Homo sapiens: one gene and its partners. The protein of the gene in region 2 purifies or fractionates together with the protein of the main gene of each other region. This does not show direct contact. Each region holds a gene or a part of one and is shown on either strand. Other genes may lie near its edges.

What was found.
Region 1: the proteins of TBC1D13 (region 2) and ARMC1 fractionate together in Homo sapiens (co-fractionation; one large-scale study listed by BioGRID). This does not show direct contact.
Region 3: the proteins of TBC1D13 (region 2) and WDR12 fractionate together in Homo sapiens (co-fractionation; one large-scale study listed by BioGRID). This does not show direct contact.

Annotation. Positions count from the first base shown.
Region 1 is NC_000008.11:65,606,678-65,610,177, forward strand, and holds part of ARMC1 (armadillo repeat-containing protein 1), read right to left. Parts: intron 1-3,500.
Region 2 is NC_000009.12:128,800,525-128,804,252, forward strand, and holds part of TBC1D13 (TBC1 domain family member 13), read left to right. Parts: intron 1-2,725; coding exon 2,726-2,936; intron 2,937-3,431; coding exon 3,432-3,595; intron 3,596-3,728. UniProt on the Homo sapiens protein: Acts as a GTPase-activating protein for RAB35. Together with RAB35 may be involved in regulation of insulin-induced glucose transporter SLC2A4/GLUT4 translocation to the plasma membrane in adipocytes.
Region 3 is NC_000002.12:202,884,039-202,887,766, forward strand, and holds part of WDR12 (ribosome biogenesis protein WDR12), read right to left. Parts: intron 498-3,728; coding exon 357-497; intron 266-356; coding exon 160-265; intron 1-159.

The DNA of each region.
Region 1 (3,500 bases), on a different chromosome or scaffold from region 2:
TTTCCCACTGATTATTCCAGCTTTGTCTCACCTTAACTCCAAAGTCCAGTTCCTAAACTGATTTTCTTTCTGCTTCAAACCTCAGAAGACTATTCTCATCACTTTAGCCATCACTAACATTACTAACTCCAATATGACTTTCTTATTTGTCTGTCAGACATATCCACTTGACCATCAAGTGGTCATCTCAATACAAGATCCAAAGTGAAAATGGAAAAAGTAATTGCATTTTCTCCTCATAGCTCCCTCCACCTCTGGCCCACACACCAAATCACACTCTCTACATTTTCTGATTTCTGTATTGAGACCAAGTTTTGATTTATATTTCTGAGGGGTCAATCTGCAACTGACCCACGTGCCAAATCTGTAGACTATATCCAGTTTTCAAACTTATTTCCACATCCTTCAAAACAACTGCTCACACCATTGCTCATCTCCCTACTTCTGCATTTCAACACTACTCAGGGAGACGTGGGACACGTCAGTCTGTGGCACAGCACAGGCCCACAGTGGGCTCATCTAGTGCACTGTGTCTGGACCCTGCTCTGCAGGGGCCTGCATTTGGTGAAGCCCCTTAGAGGACTGGTGCCAAATAGCACCATGTTTATCTCTTCCACATATTCAACACCAGGTAAACTTGAAAGTGAAGTAAAGCTCACACAATATATATAAGTTAGGATACTATTAATCTGATCCCTTATTTTAAATGTGAGGAAAGTGAAAAGTTGAAAAACAACTTGCCTGATTTACCACAGGTAGAGTCTGGTACTAAATGCCAACCACATGCAACAGTGAGAAACGAGATTCATAAGTCTAATTTATCTTTATTTTAACATAAATTAACACACTTTTTTAGCAAGCTTATTGCCTGCCTCCTCCAACTATGCTAGCTCCAAGAGAGCAAAAAGTTTTGCTTTTTGGTCATCGCTGTATCCCTGGTATCTAAAATAATGCCTAACATTAGGTGCTCCTTTTTATTGTAAAAATTAGTACATTCTACCATGTGAACTTTCAGATCAGGAAATAAAGTTCCAAAATCATCAGACTGATTGGCATTATTTTAAGTCCACAAATTTAGGAAGAACTAACATCCTTACAAACTTTCAGAAACAGGCATTTCATTCCATTTATTCCAGTCTTCTTATAATACTGAAGACCTTTAATTTTTTTTATTAAGTCTTGTATTTTCTTATTAAGAATACCCTTGCTACTATCACACTGGTCATTAAGTTTAAAAAAACAAAAAGAAAAAAAGAAAAAATACCCCTGCACTCTTCCTAGCTGTTTGTTTTGTTTGGGAGAGTAAAACTACTTTTCTCCTTTTAAGAAGTAACTGATTTCCATATATTTAATAATGTCACTGGATTTTTAAAATATTTTTAAGAAATTTCAGATCATTCTCCTGGATTTTCTATATTTACAGCTATATCAATAGCAAATTATCAAATTATTGACTTACTGATATTATACTAAAATATTTCACTATGTTAAATCATATTTACAACTCCAGGATAAAACTAGATTGTTTCTAGGAAATTATAATATTGTGATTAAAAGTTCGATTCTGGGCCAGGCGCGGTGGCTCACACTTGTAATCCTAGCACTTTGTGAGGCCGAGGCAGGTGGATCACCTGAGGTCAGGAGTTCAAGACCAGCCTGGCCAACATGGCAAAACCCTGTCTCTACTAAAAATACAAAAAAATTAGCGGGGCGTGGTGGTGGGTGCCTGTAATCCCAGCTACTTGGGAGGCTGAGGCACGAGAATTACTTGAACCCAGGGGGTGGAGGTTGCAGTGAGCTGAGATCACGCCACCTCACTCCAGCCTGGGCAAAAGAGCAACTCTGTCTCGAAAAAGAGTTCAATTCTGAAGTCACACTACCTAGTCCAAAAAATGTTGACTAAGCTAAAGTTACATAGGTAGAGTAAACAGTTAAGTTATTTGACCATTCTAAACTCAACTTCCCCTTCTATTATAACCTAGCACTTTGGGAGGGCAAGGCAGGCAGATCACTTGAGATCAGGAGTTCAAAACCAGACTGGCCAATATAGTGAAACCCCGTCTCTATAAAAATACAAAAAAATTGGCCGGGCATGGTGGTGGGCATCTTTAATCCCAGCTACTTGGGAGGCTGAGGCAGGAGAATTGCTTGAACCTGGGAGGTGGACGTTGCAGTGAGCCAAGATCGTGTCACACTGATCTCCAGCCTGGGCGACAGAGTGAGACTCTGTCTCAAAAAAAATAAAGAAAGAAAGAAGATATACATCTCTCTGTGCTGTCAGAAACAAATGAGAGAATCGATGAAATAAACTTATCACTAGTACCAGGCTATGTCACCAAAAAAAGTTAACATGATAGTACAGTACTAGAATTAACTTGCTAATATTTCATTTTGGACTTGGTAATCATGTTTTTACTATATATTGGCCTATATATTTGTTTGTTTGGTTTCTGCTCTTTTTTTTTTTTTTTTTTGAGACGGAATCTCGCTATGTTGACTAGGCTGGTCTTGAACTCTTGGGCTCTAGCAATCTTCCTGCCTTAGCCTCCCATATAGCTGAGATTACAGGCATGTGCCACCACACCTGGCTAGCCTATATTTTTGTGTGTGCTTTGCTGGGTTTTATTACTTGATTTGTGCTAGCTTTAAAAAGAAACTATATTATTCTTATTCACTAAAATTAAACACATGGTATTGGAGATATTTTATATATCTTAAGATCTTCCAGTGAATCAATTTACCTTTATCAGAACTTGCTTTCTAGAAATTGCCTTGTGACCCCACTTCCAGTAAGATAGCTGTGGACTGATTTGGGTCTGACAATATGCATATGGAAGGCTTATTTACTAAACCCCATATCCTGAGCCTAAGCACCTAAACACAACTAGAAAAAGCTGTGGGCCAGGCGCCATGGCTCAACGCCTGTAATCCCAACACTTTGGGAGGCCAAGGCGGGTGGATCACAAGGTCAGGAGTTCGAGACCAGCCTGGCCAATATGGTGAAACCCCGTCTCTACTAAAAACACAAAAATTAGATGGGCATGGTGGCGGGCACCTGTAGTCCCAGCTACAGGGGAGGCTGAGGCAGGAGAATCATTTGAACCTGGGAGGCAAAGGTTGCAGTAAGCCGAGATCACGACACTGCACTCCAGCCTGGGGGACAGAGCAAGACTCTGTCTCAAAAAAAAAAAAAAAAAAAGAAAAGAAAAAGAAAAAAGCTGTGAATAATCTAATATAACCTACCTGGCATTGCTAAAGAGGTAAGTGGTAATCTACCAACTGCTACCCCTAAATATGTAAAGTTATATAACTTCTCTCTGTGCAAGGTAACTTCAGGGGAACTTCCAGCTGCAGTCCAGATGGATTAACAGGGACCAGATTTAGCCTCTAGAATTAAACAACTAAAAATATAGACAAAATTAAAATTTTTTTGTGTGTGTGACGGGATCTCGCCCTGTCGCCCAGGCTGGAGTGCAATGGCGCAATCTCAGCTCACTGCA
Region 2 (3,728 bases):
CACACCTGGCTAATTTTTGTATTTTTAGTAGAGATTTTTGGCCAGGGTGGTCTCGAACTCCTGACCTAAAGTGATCCACCCACCTCAGTTTCCCAAAGTGCTGGGATTACAGGTGTGAGCCACTGTGCCTGGCCTCCAACCTTTTCTTATGAAAATTTTCAAACATTCAGGAAAGTTGAAAGGAGAGTACACTGGATAACTATCTGTATACTTTCCATCTAAATGCAACAGTTGTTAACGTTTTTCACATTGCTTTATTTGTGTGTGTATTATATATAGAGAGAGTAAGTTGCAGGTGTCTGACCTTTTACCATCGAGTACTTCGGTAGGATCTCCTGAGAATAAGGGCATTGTCAGCCAAGTGCGGTGGCTCACACCTGTAATCCCAACACTTTGGGAGGCCAAGGCAGGTGGATCACCTGAAGTCAGGAGTTTGAGACCAGCCTGACCAACATGGTGGAACCCCCTCTCTACTAAAAATACAAAACAACAACAAAAAAATGCCAGGCGTGGTGGTGAGCACCTATAATCTCAGCTACTTGGGAGGCTGAGGTGGGAGAATAGTTTGAACCTAGGAGACAGAGTTGCAGTGAGCCAAGATCACTCCATTGCACTCCAGCCTGGGTGACAGAGCAAGACTCCATCTCAAAAAAAGAAGAAGGGCATTCTCCTACTTACCATTAGCACATCTGGGAAGATTAACCATGAGTCCATAATATCACCTGATACCCAACCCATGAACAATTGAGATGTCCTCAGCTGGTGCCAGTGGTATCTTTGGATATTCTCTTTCTTTGGTCTCTTGATTTGGACTAGGCCTCCCCTCCCCAACCCCATCCCCTCAACAGCTGACTTTTTGAAAAGGCTTGGCCAGCCTGGACGCGGTGGCTCATGCCTGTAATCCCAGCACTTTGGGAGGCTGAGGCGGGCGGATCACGAGGCCAGGAGTTCAAGACCATACTGGCCAACATGGTGAAACTCTGTCTCTACTAAAAATACAAAAAATTAGCTGGGCATGGTGGTGGGTGCCTGTACTCCCAGCTACTCAGGAGGCTAAGGCAGGAGAATCACTTCAACCTGGGAGGTGGAGGTTGCAGTGAGCTGAGGTCGCACCACTGCACTCCAGCCTGGGTGACAGAGCAAGACTCTGTCTCAGGGGGGCAAATAAAAGAAAGAAAAGTCTTGGGCTTGGCCAGTTGTTTGTTTTTGACATATTTAAGATTTTTTTGTTTTTTGTTTTTTGTTTTTTTTTTTTGAGACGGAGTCTCGCACTGTCACCCAGGCTGGAGTGCAGTGGCACGATCTCCACTTACTGCAAACTCCGCCTCCTGGGTTCATGCCATTCTCCTGCCTCAGTCTCCCGAGTAGCTGGGACTACAGGTGCCCGCCACCACGCCTGGCTAATTTTTTGTATTTTTGGTAGAGACAGGGTTTCACCGTGTTAGCTAGGATGGTCTTGGTCTCCTGACCTCGTGATCTGCCCACCTCAGCCTCCCAAAGTGCTGGGATTACAGGCGTGAGCCACCGCACCCAGCCTGTTTGTTTTTTGAAATGGAGTTTCACTCTTGTTGCCCAGGCTGGAGTGCAATGGTGCAATCTCGGCTCACCACAACCTCCGCCTCCTGGGTTCAGGTGCTTCTCCTGCCTCAGCCTCCTGAGTAGCTGGGATTACAGGTATACGCCACCACGCCTGGCTAATTTTTTTGTATTTTTAATAGAGACAGGGTTTCTCCATGTTGGTCAGGCTGGTCTTGAACTCCCGACCTCAGGTAATCTGCCCGTCTTGACCTCCCAAAGTGCTGGGATTACAGGTATGAACCACCGTGCCCGGCCCTAAAGTTTTTGTTTTAAATTGAAATGTAACTTACGTGCAATTACGTGTACAATTAGAGAATGTTTTTCTTGTGTGTGTACCTGTGTAAGTGCCAGTCAGTCAAGATACAGAACATGTCCACATCCAGAAAGTTCCTGCATGCCCCTTCCTAGTTAGTACTTCTCACTGCTCTGACTTTTAGCACCATAAGTTAGGTTTTAGGACCATTTGTTGTATTGCAGAATGTCCCATATTCTAGGTTTGTCTCCTTGTTTCCTCATGGTGGCGTTTGACTTGTTCCTCTGTGCCAGTGTATGTCCCATATGCTAGATAGGTCCAGGCTTAAAAGTAAACATTTACATTTCTGGCAAGAACACATTGTCCTCCTTCACATTGTCCATTTTTTTTTTTTTTTTTGAGACAGTGTCTTGTTGTCACCCAGGTTGGAGTGCAGTGATGTGATCATAGCTCACTGCAGCCTCAGCCTCGTGGTCTCAAGTGATCCTCTTGCCCCAGCCTCGCAAGTCGCTGGGACCACAGGTGCGTGCCTTCACACTCGGCTAACATTTACATTTTTTGTAGAGACGGGATCTCCCTATGTTGCCCAGGCTGGTCTTGAACTCTTAGGCTCAAGTGATCCTCCTGCCTTGGCCTCCAAAAGTGCTGGGAATACAGGCATGAGCTATTGTGGCCCGCCCATGTTGTCTCTTTTTTTGTTTTTGTTTTTTTCTCCTGAGACAGGGTCTTGCTCTATCACCCAGGCTGGAATGCAATGGTGTAATCACGGCTCACTGCAGCCTCGACCACTGGGGCTCAGCTCCCACCTCAGCCTCCCAAAGTGCTGGGATTTCAGGCATGAGCCACTGACCCCAGCATTGTCTTTCTTGATGGGCTCCTCCTCTTCTCCTCCAGATGAGCTCCCCACACAAGAACTCTGTGCCATCATCCCTAAATGAGTATGAGGTGCTGCCCAATGGCTGTGAGGCCCACTGGGAGGTGGTGGAGCGGATCCTGTTCATCTACGCCAAGCTCAACCCTGGCATCGCTTATGTGCAAGGCATGAATGAAATCGTGGGGCCCCTCTACTACACCTTTGCCACCGACCCCAATAGTGAGTGGAAAGGTAAGAAGGCTCTTGGTGCCCACATCCCTCGTTGCTGGCCCGTGTCAGGCTGTGCACCTCACTTTCCCTCTCGGGCCTCTGTTCTCCCTCTGCCAGATGAGGAGTTGGCCTGGATCATCTCTGAGATCCTTTGCAGCTGTGATCTTCTAGAATGTTGGTTGTTTACTGATCTCTTGATATTTGTAATTTAATTCTGATAGAGAAGGTGGATATGTAGGAAGCCGAATTATAAGATTTAAATAATGATTTTTAAATTGTCATCAGGAGAGTGTGTAATAAACTGCTAAGTGAATGTACAGTATTGCCAGATGTGAGAAGAAAGAGGCGATGTCTTTAGCCTGGGGGTGGAGAGGGGTCAAGGACAGAGGAAGGACTGAGCCAGACCATGAGGATGGGGCAACTCGGCGGGGCTCAGAGCAGGGCAGATGTCTGGTAGGTGAGAGGTGGGGTGGGCCTGGAGTGCGCCACTTCTGCCCCCATCCTGCTCTCTCCCAGAGCACGCCGAGGCAGACACCTTTTTCTGCTTCACCAACCTCATGGCCGAGATCCGGGACAACTTTATCAAGAGCCTGGATGACTCGCAGTGTGGCATCACCTACAAGATGGAGAAGGTTTACTCCACCTTGAAAGATAAGGATGTGGAGCTCTACCTGAAACTGGTGAGGACCCCAGGAACAGACGGGTGGAAAGGGACAGGAGGCAGAGAGTTGCTGTGCCATCCCAGCCCAGGGCGAGGTCTCGCTTGAGTCTGGGGGTCAGAAGTAGCTGCTGCTGCTGCTGCCCGGGACGCTG
Region 3 (3,728 bases), on a different chromosome or scaffold from region 2:
CTGACCTCATGATCTGCCCGCCTCGGCCTCTCAAAGTGCTGGGATTACAGGCATGAGCCACCACGCCTGGCCAGAAATTCCTTTTTTTGTACATCTCCAGAGAGATGAGAAATAGATGTTATTCACACATATATTCCCCCAGTGGTTTACATGACTCACCTTTAGTTCGGGGATCCCACAGTCTGATATGCCTATCTGTGCTTCCAGATGCTAAACGTTTACAAAGTGGAGAATAGGAAATACAATTAAACACTTTATTTCCTGTCTGAAAAAGAAAAGGAAAGAACATTAACCATGGTAGACTAAAAACCATCTCTAGAAGTTTATCACTTAAAAGAACACTGAATTTGTCTTACCAAAGTTGACTTAAGACTGCCAGACTCAACATCCCACACTCTAATTGTATGGTCCCAAGATGCACTGCAGATTTCTTCAGCATCTGACCACAGAACTGAGGAAACTGCCTCCATGTGGCCAGAGAGGGTCACTATGGGAGTCTAGAAAGGAAGAACCCCAAAAGGGGAAAGTGTTTTCATTACAGAATAATTGAAACAATAATAGTACTTATTACTTACAAAGCCCACATGACAGAGACAAACTGCCCATCTTTCATATCCTGACTTATTTCTTCCTTTACAATGGAATGGATATTTCTGTTTTTATTTTATACAAGACACTGAGGCTGATAAAGATAACTTGCCCAAGGTCATAGAGCTTATAAGTGGCAGACTTGAATTTGACCCCAAATATTACTCGTCTGTAGTCTTTCCACTATATTCTGCTGCTCCTCATCTGTTCTACTTTTCATTTTGATCAGCATTAACACAAACTTAACTCTCCCAGCTGACAAATGTTATATTAAAGATTAGTGCTGGATGGTTTCCCAATGGCCTTGGACTGATGGATACAGTTTCTCCCCCCCTCTTTTCTTCTTGCCTGTAGTTCTCAAAATAACTATAGAATATTCTGGGAATATAACATCCTGAGATAGGGAGCAACTGGCCAGCATAGCCTGGGGGCTCTATTCCAGCTCTTAGAAACAGGATGTCCTTCAAACTTTGCCCAGAGTCAAGTGACCCCAGGGTACAAAAACCAGGGCAGGCTGTTTTTTGGGATCCCTCAGCTGTACTGCAAGTGAGGCATATGCAGTTAACACTCCATTTGCCCCTGGCAGCTTTCTTGAGCCTTGGGGGACTGGCTCACAATGGATCCTCGGCTTCTGTTGTCCCTTGCTGCCTATCTGTAAGTAATAAACCCGTTTCATGTAACGTGTTGCGTGTGTGCTCTTCCTCACCAGATTCAGGCAACTGGTAAAACTGCAGCCCAGGATGCGGTGGGTGAAAGTATTCACACTTCTATTCCTGGTGCCTGGCATACGATGACCTTTACTATCCTCCAACCAGTGGGAATCCTCCCTTAGACTGGTTATTAGTGAAACTGCTTCACAGTTAACACAAAAACCTTTGTGATCAGACAGATATAGGTTTCAGCACCTTCACACAAAATATGCCGCCAATTTCTACACAACTCCTCCAGGTAAATTAATCTCAGTAAGTTATTCTTACCACCTCATTCCTCAGTATCTTTAAGTCCTATTATTTAATCTTTAAATAATGTACACAGTTCACTTATTAATACTCCACAATCTCTAATGTCTTTCTAAACTAAAAGCCCCAAACTAGGTAACTAGGTAGAGTACCTACCTTAAATATAAGGAGTATATAAAAGAGAGTGGGAAGAGCCAGGCACAGAGGCTCATACCTGTAGTCTCAACGCTTTGGGAGGCTGAAGCAGGAGGATCACTGGAGCCCAGGGGTTTGAGAACAGCCTAGGCAACATAGTAAGACCCCGTCTCTACTAAAAATAAAATTAGCTGGGCTTAATGACACATGACTATAGTCATATCTATTTGGGAGGCTGAAGTAGAAGGATCACTTGAGCCCAGCAGTTTGAGGCTACAGTGAGCTACCATCACGCCACTGCACTCCAGCCAGGCCCACTCCTGCAGTGGGCCACTGCACTCGGCCCACAGTTGTTTTAATAAGGGGTTGTTTTTTACAACACTTTATAATTGTAATTTAGGTTTTTGTGTGAACAAGAGAGATCTTGTCTCTAAAAAAAAAAAAAAAGAGAGGAGGCCACACACGGTGGCTAACACCTATAATCCTAGCACTTTGGGAGGCCGAGGTGGGTGGATCACTTGAGCTCAGGAGTTCAAGACCAGCCTGGGCAACATGCTGAAACCCTGTCTCTACAAAAAAATATAGAAATGAACTGGCTGTGGTAGCACACTCCTGTAGTCTCAGCTACCTGAGAGGCTTACATGGGAGGATTGCTTGAACCTGGGACGTGGAGGTTGCCATTAGCTGAGATTGTGCCACTGCACTCTACCCTGGGCAACACAGTGAGAGTCTGTCTCTTAAAAACAAACAAACAAACAAAAAAACTAGCTGGGTGCGGTGGCTCACACCCGTAATCCCAGAACTTTGGGAGGCCGAGGTGGGTGATCACCTGAGGTCAGGAGTTCAAGACCAGCCTGACCAACATGGAGAAGCCCCGTCTCTACTAAAACTACAAAATTAGCCAGGCGTGGTGGTGCATGCCTGTCATCCCAGCTACTCAGGAGGCTGAGGCAGGAGAATCGCTTGAACCCAGGAAGCAAAGGTTGCAGTGAGCCGAGATTGCGCCACTGCACTCCAGCCTGGGCAACAAGAGTGAAACTCCATCTCAAAAAAAAAAAAAAAAAAAAGAGGAAAAGAATTCTGGAATAGGGGATAGTCAATCTACTTTTATATAACTTTGCTACATTTAACTTCCTTAAATATTGCCTCATCTGTAATATTTAGGAGTTATAACTGGATCAGAAAGCAAACTTTTTCAGTAAAGAACCAGCAAGTAAATATTTCAGCCTTTGGAGACCATACACAGTTTCTGTTGTATATTTTTCTTTGCTGAGTAATATTCTGCTGTATGAATAATACCACAGTTTTGTTTTTTGTTTTTTTGAGATGGAGCTTCACTCATCGCCCAGGCTAGAGTGCAATGCACAAGCTTGGCTTACTGCAACTTCCACCTCCCAGGTTCAAGCGACTCTCCTGCCTCAGCCTCCCAAGTAGCTGGGATTACAGGCACGTGCCACCACGCCTGGCTAACTTTTCGCATTTTTAGTACAGACGGGGTTTCACCATGTTGGTCAGGCTGGTCTTCACTCCTGACTGCAGGTGATGTGCCCGCCTCAGCCTCCCAGAGTGCTGGGGTTACAGGTGCCCCACTGCACTTGGCCCACAGTTGTTTTAATAAGGGGTTGTTTTTACAACACTTATAATTGTAAAAACCATCCTTAGCTCTCTGTAGCACAAAAATAGGTGACAGCCAAACTGGCTGTTGGGCTGTAATTTGCCAACTCCTAGACCAAATGATCCCTGAGGTCTCTTAGCATTTTCCTGAAAGAAGTAAAGGAACCTGATAGAGGAGTGAGAAACAGAACAATCTCTGATGTCATCTAAAACAAAATGAAAAGGTGACATAGAGGTAATCAGAAGGCTCTAGAATAGAAAATGACATGGTAGGCCGGGCGCGGTGGCTCACGCCTGTAATCCCAGCACTTTGGGAGGCTGAGGCGGGTGGATCATGAGGTCAGGAGATCGAGACCATCCTGGCTAACAAGGTGAAACCCCGTCTCTACTAAAAATACAAAAAATTAGCCGGGCGCGGTGGCGGGCGCCTGT